Homo sapiens: one gene and its partner. The protein of the gene in region 1 interacts with the protein of each later gene in a pairwise test. Each region holds a gene or a part of one and is shown in the gene's direction. Other genes may lie near its edges.

Evidence for each region. Proteins that work in one complex are often made in the same cells at the same time.
Region 2: the proteins of EPSTI1 (region 1) and BCAR3 interact in a two-hybrid assay, tested with the Homo sapiens proteins (one large-scale study listed by BioGRID and IntAct).

Annotation. Positions count from the first base shown.
Region 1 is NC_000013.11:42,885,788-42,888,619, reverse strand, and holds the end of EPSTI1 (epithelial-stromal interaction protein 1), read left to right. Parts: intron 1-117; coding exon 118-126; coding exon of another isoform or gene 127-370; 3' UTR 371-2,232; downstream 2,233-2,832. UniProt on the Homo sapiens protein: Plays a role in M1 macrophage polarization and is required for the proper regulation of gene expression during M1 versus M2 macrophage differentiation.
Region 2 is NC_000001.11:93,584,232-93,587,886, reverse strand, and holds part of BCAR3 (breast cancer anti-estrogen resistance protein 3), read left to right. Parts: intron 1-2,724; exon of another isoform or gene 2,725-2,915; intron 2,916-3,655. UniProt on the Homo sapiens protein: Acts as an adapter protein downstream of several growth factor receptors to promote cell proliferation, migration, and redistribution of actin fibers.

The DNA of each region.
Region 1 (2,832 bases):
ATGGTCATTTCAGCTTGATGCATAAGAGCGTTCTTTGCAGGAACTTCATTTTTGACTACAAAGGCTTTGAATTTTATTTTGCTGCTTGCAGTAATTTTTGTTTTCTTTTTCTTCCAGGGTATATGAGAAAATATTGACTCCTATCTGGCCTTCATCAACTGACCTCGAAAAGCCTCATGAGATGCTTTTTCTTAATGTGATTTTGTTCAGCCTCACTGTTTTTACCTTAATTTCAACTGCCCACACACTTGACCGTGCAGTCAGGAGTGACTGGCTTCTCCTTGTCCTCATTTATGCATGTTTGGAGGAGCTGATTCCTGAACTCATATTTAATCTCTACTGCCAGGGAAATGCTACATTATTTTTCTAATTGGAAGTATAATTAGAGTGATGTTGGTAGGGTAGAAAAAGAGGGAGTCACTTGATGCTTTCAGGTTAATCAGAGCTATGGGTGCTACAGGCTTGTCTTTCTAAGTGACATATTCTTATCTAATTCTCAGATCAGGTTTTGAAAGCTTTGGGGGTCTTTTTAGATTTTAATCCCTACTTTCTTTATGGTACAAATATGTACAAAAGAAAAAGGTCTTATATTCTTTTACACAAATTTATAAATAAATTTTGAACTCCTTCTGTATAAATGGGTCATTTTTATTTTTAATGAAAAGTTATTGGGGTTTTCTCTCTTGAAGGGTCTCATTTTAATTCCCTTTTCCAGGCCGTATAGATCAAATATAGTACTGTCATTACTGTTGGCTCTTGTTTTGGTCTTGACTTACTAATAGTGTTACCCTGATTTTCAGAGGGGGACAGTTTATCTCCAGAAAGGCCAATGTTTGTATACACATCAGCTAGACACAAATATAGACATCATATGTAGTTTGTACATGTTTCAGAAACTTGTTTTTTCTTTGCTCTGTGTAACCTATTTCCTATTGCTAGTTCAGTTGGCTTTCTTATTCACTTCTGTGACCCTGAACCAGTTCTCAGACCCTAGAGTGTAAGAGCATTGATTTTCTACGCTGTGTAATCTAGCTCAATCCCTCTGTCCCCTCCGCCTCACCGTCCCCCAGCCACCACATTGTATAGCAAAAGCATTACATTCAATCCTAGAATAAAGGTAAATACAACAAATCATCTTTGCAGCTGGACAACTAATAATACTTTGCAGCATTAAGAGATCTTCTGTGTTACCAGTCACTCTGTTGAAATGAACTTTCCGAATCTCTTTATTCAGGAAAACATGGGGTTTTGAAATTCTTGGGCCAAGAGACATAACTGAGGGGTTCGCAGAGCTAGGCAAGGGTGCACTAGGAAAGGGCCACATTGGTGGGTGGGGGGTAACAGAGAACAGATGGTGTCAGGAAGTTTCTCTGGAGTAAATAATGTGGATATTCTTGGTTTCCCTCTCCTCCGCCAGCTGAAGCTGTGTTAGTGCTGTTGACACTAATATAAAATGTTTGGTCCATTTGAAATCCTTGTCATTGCCTTATATGGGGGAAACTCAATCCCCCAGCCTGTGTTGGAAATATCACCAAACTGATTGTAAATGTGCGGCTGTAGCAGACATTTTAGTGTGGTGGTGTGCAGCCATTTCGGCCCTACACCTGCCAGCCTGGCTACCTTACAGTTGTGTTCCGATTTTTGCGTCTATGCTTGGTGTGCCTCACTTGCTGCATTTTCCAGCATGCAACCAGGAGTTGACGTAGGAAAAAGGGATGCTTTCTTACTTTGGAAGCTCTCAGGGAAGTTGGTGTCAATTTCTCCTCCACTGCCTGGCCTACCCTGCACTCCCAAAGATTTTGTGCAGATGGGTAGTTCCATTTTTTAAAAATTGTGCAGATATGGAAAATTGTGACTTACTTCATGACCAGAACTATCTAGAATATGTGTGGGGGTATAAACATCTTGCTTAACCAAATATCTATGTAGGCAGAGGTAACCAGGAGAGAAGCAAGACTTGCTGCCTAAAGGAGCCCACCATTTTACTTTTCACATTTAATCTGCCACGTTGAATCAATTGGAATAAAACCTGACTCGCAGGTGACTGGACAGGAAATCCCAAAGTTCCACCATTTCTATGCTTAATTTTAATGTCCCCCCGCTTTTTTTTTTGTAGAAAATAAAAACAAGAAAATCGTTCCAATGTAAGATGTTTGTTATAGAAACTTTAGGCAATACAGGTGTGTAATAAAATGTTTAATAAACTTCTAAACACTTTTGTATTTGGATTTACCACTTTTTCCTTTGTGGTTTCTTCTTGGTATTATGTTGATAGATCCTAAAATCTACAAAGCAACAACCTCTACCCAGTGGCCTATTTTAACAAAACAAAGGATTTCCCCTACTACTGGGCTTAGTTATATTATAGTAGATAGTCAGGCAGACAGGAGCAGGCCAAGAGAGGCCCCCACTACCAGGAATGTCAGGCAACCATCAGGTGATGGTCAGCCAAGTTATTTTTGTTGTTTTTCTTTTTTTTTGAGATGGAGTCTCACTCTGTTGCCCAGGTTGGAGTACAGTGGCATGACCTCGGCTCACTGCAACCTCTGCTACCCGGGTTCAAGAGATTCTCCTGCCTCAAACTCCCAAGTAGCTGGGATTACAGTCTCCCACCCGCCACCACGCCCAGCTAATTGTTGTATTTTTAGTAGAGACGGGGTTTTGCCACGTTGGCCAGGCTGGTCTCAAACTCCTGACCTCAGGTGATCCGCCTGCCTCAGCCTCCCAAAGTGCTGGGATTACAGGCATGAGCCACTGCACCCAGCCGGCCAGCCAGTTGTTAAGCTGACTCTCTAAAGTAATAATTGGTTGCAGCCAGTGCCAGGGAAAGGC
Region 2 (3,655 bases), on another chromosome or scaffold:
GAGCTCAGAGTCTTTGTGCATATTATCTAAAAGCACTGGGAAAGGAAAGGAGGGAAAAGGCAGGCATCGGGGACATAGATCCAGTCCAGCCCCTCAGTCACACAGCAGCCCTGACCCGGCTCCCAGCTTCTAATCTTATGCACGTAAACCAACATATTTTATTCTACTCACTGGTTTTTTTTTTTGGCGGGGGGGTCCATGAGGAAATGTCATAAACTGTCATTTCTATACTGCAAAACTTAGGGAGGAAAATACAGGACTCTGTGTGGAATGTAAATGACAGCTGTGTGCTGCCTGGAGGCTCCGGCACATGCTAGTCAGCATCTGGCTGGGGACCCAGTAGCCAGGCACAAATGCCGGCTCCACATTGGGCAACTTTTCAACCATGGGCAAGCGACTTGACCTTCCTGGGCCTCACCTTCTTCATCTAGAAAGATGGAGCTTGTGAGGTGTACATGATTTAATATATGCAAAGTGCTCAGAACAGTGCAGGCACAGAGGAGGTGCTAGGGAAGTGCTCATGATAATTATTATCTGGAGGAGAGTAGAATGTCAGACTCAGACCCAGCACAGTGGCTCACAGCTGTAATCCCAGCACTTTGGGAGGCTAAGGTGGGCAGATTGCCTGAGCTTCAGAGTTCAAGACCAGCTTGGGCAACATGGCACAACCCTGTCTCTACAAAAAATATGAAAATTAATATAAGGAGCTCAAACAACTCTATAGGAAAAACTCTAATAATCTGATTTTTAAAATGGGCAAAAGATTTGCTCTTTTGAGAAATGAGTATTTCTCAAAAGAAGACATACAAATGGGCTGGGCATGGTGGCTCACGCCTGTAATCCCAACAATTTGGGAGGCCGAGGCAGGTGGATTACCTGAGTTCAGGAGTTCAAGACCAACCTGGCCAACATGGCAAAACCCCATCTCTACTAAAAATGCAAAAATTAACCAGGTGTGGTGGTGCACGCCTGTAGTCCCAGCTACTAGGGAGGCTAAGGCAGGAGAATTGCTTGAACCCAGGAGGCAGTGAGCCGAGATCATGCCACTGCAGTGGCAAACAGGCATATGAAAAGGTGTTCAACATGATTGGTCATCAGAGAAATGCAAATCAAAACTATAATGGATATCACCTTACCCCAGTTAAAAAGGCCTATATCCAAAAGACAGGTAATAACAAATGCTGGTGAGGATTGTGGGGAAAAGGGAACCCTCCTACACTGTTGAGGGGAATGTAAATTAGTACAACCACTATGGAGAACAGTTTCGAGGTTCCTCAGAAAACTAAAAATTGAGCTACTATATGATCCAGCAATCCCACTGCTGGGTATATACCCAGAAGAGTGGAAATCAGTATATCAAAGAGATACCTGCACCAATGTTTGTTGCAGCACTGTTTACAATAGCTAAGATTTGGAAGCAGCCTAAGTGTCCATCAACAGCTGAATAGATAAGGGAAATGTGTATATACACAGTGGAGTACTATTCAGCCATAAAAACAATGAGATCCTGTTATTTGCAACCACGTGGATGGAATTGGAGATCATTATGTTAAGTGAAATAAGCCAGACACAGAAAGACAAATGTTCTCACTTATTTGTGGGATCAAAAAGTCAAAACAACTGAATTCTTGGACACAGAGAGTAGAAGGATGGTTAGCAGAGCCTGGGAAGGGTAGTAGTGGGTGGGGAGTAGGGGATGGGAGGGAGGTGGGGATGGTTAATGGGTACAAAAAATTTAGAAAGAATGAATAAGACTTATTTGATAACACAATAGGGTGACTGTAGTCAAAACAATTATATATTTTAAAATAAAGAGTGTAATTGGACTGTTTGTAACTCAAAGGATAAATGCTAGAGGGCATGGATACCCCATTCTCCATGATACACTTATTTCACATTGCATGCCTGTATCAAAACATCTCATGTACCCCATAAATATATACACCTACTATGTATGCACAAAATTTTTTAAATATAAAAATTAGCTGGGCATGGTGGTGTGTGCCTGTGGTCCCAGCTACTCGAGAGGCTGAGGTGGGAGGATTGCTTGAGCCTGGGAGGTTGAAGCTGCAGTGAGCCATGACCATGCCACTTCACTCCAGCCTGGGCAACAGAGCGAGAGCCTGTCTCAAAACAAACAAAAAAACTCAGGGCAATTGCAAGGAGGGAGGCAAGACCTGATATTTAGAAATCCTCCTTTTCATAGTAATAGGATTGGACTTGAGATGCCTTACAGTGTTAGAAGGGGTACCTTTTCTTCTGTTTCCTTTGGGAAGGATAGGCTGCTGAATGGTCGAAGCAGGGAATTAATGTCATGCACAGAGTGGGAGTGTATTCGGCAGGATAACAGAACCACTGCTGCAGGGAAGGCCTCCTAGTTGGCCCTGAATGATCCTGGTTTAAAAACTTTTTAAGATAAGAAATGAAAAAAAGACTAAGTCTCTTAAGTCAACAAGTCAGGCCTAATAGAGCCACTTTTCTGTTTGCCCTTTGGAATGCAGATCCTCCTAGAACTTGTCACCACTTTGTACACGCAGCACGCCCAGAAATGTTTAAGTGGGAGGAGGGGAAAAGATGGCTCATGGCCTGCTGCCCTGCCCCAGTGTCCTTCAGTGGCTCCCTTATGCAGCTCTGGCCAGGTGCCACCTGCCCTGACGTCGGGCCTGCTAGTTGGCTGGCTGGTGGCCTGCCCTGGGCGAAGGTGTGTGCTCACAGGCAGGTTGCATTCCACACCCTGCCGTTCTGGCCCCTGGAGTCCAGCCGCAGTGGTCACTGCTTAAATATCACTTCTCGGGAGATATTTCCTTTTGTAATTTGCCCTCGGTCTTGTCTTATCTTCGAAAGGTTGCTGGAATTTCTCTGTTCCTTGGAGTTTGGGGGTTTTTTGATTTGTTTTTTCTTTGGTGCTTGTAAAGGTAGGAAAGAACTTCGTGATTTCTGTAACATAACAATGTTTTATGCTTATGGGAAGGCCAATTAAAGTTCATAACAACTTGGCTGGTGCAGTGCCTCTGTCTCTAGCTAGGGAGATTCTGGTGCTTGGTGCTGGAGAAATTCCCAGTCTGAATTGGAAAGGGACAGAAGGAATAACAGCGAGTGTGTTGAAAGTTACCTTCCACCTTTTCCTTGTGTGGTTACACAGTGTGCCTCCCAACTGCTGCTTGGTGACCGTGCCGGTGCCTTTTCCCAGCTCAGCAGGAGGAGGCTGTGTGGGGGTCCCCCGAGAGCAGCCAGGAGGTTGGGGATGGCAGCCTCCCCAGGCAGTCCTGCAGGTTATTTGGGGGATGCTGAGATTTGCACCAAAATGGAAGTTTCCCCACAGCTTCCTTCCTAACTGCAACACTATGGAGCATGTGGAAAATGCATGTTAGTTAGGCAAGCCATTCCCTCTGGGCCTGTAAGTAATTTTAGGCTCTGTTAAAAGTACACATTCCAGTTCATCAGATTTTCCCGGGAGTATCGTAAAACTTTTACCCTACTCTGTTCAACAGGATGGAACAGCCCAGAGGAGGCATCCTAGGACTCAGCTGCTGCATTGGTCATGGGGACAGGGGGATGGAGTACACAACACAGTCATATATTAATCGTCCCATCAGTAATTTGTTTCTCCAGCGGTCATTCCTTTACTTTTAGGGTATGCTGTAGCACTCTCGTT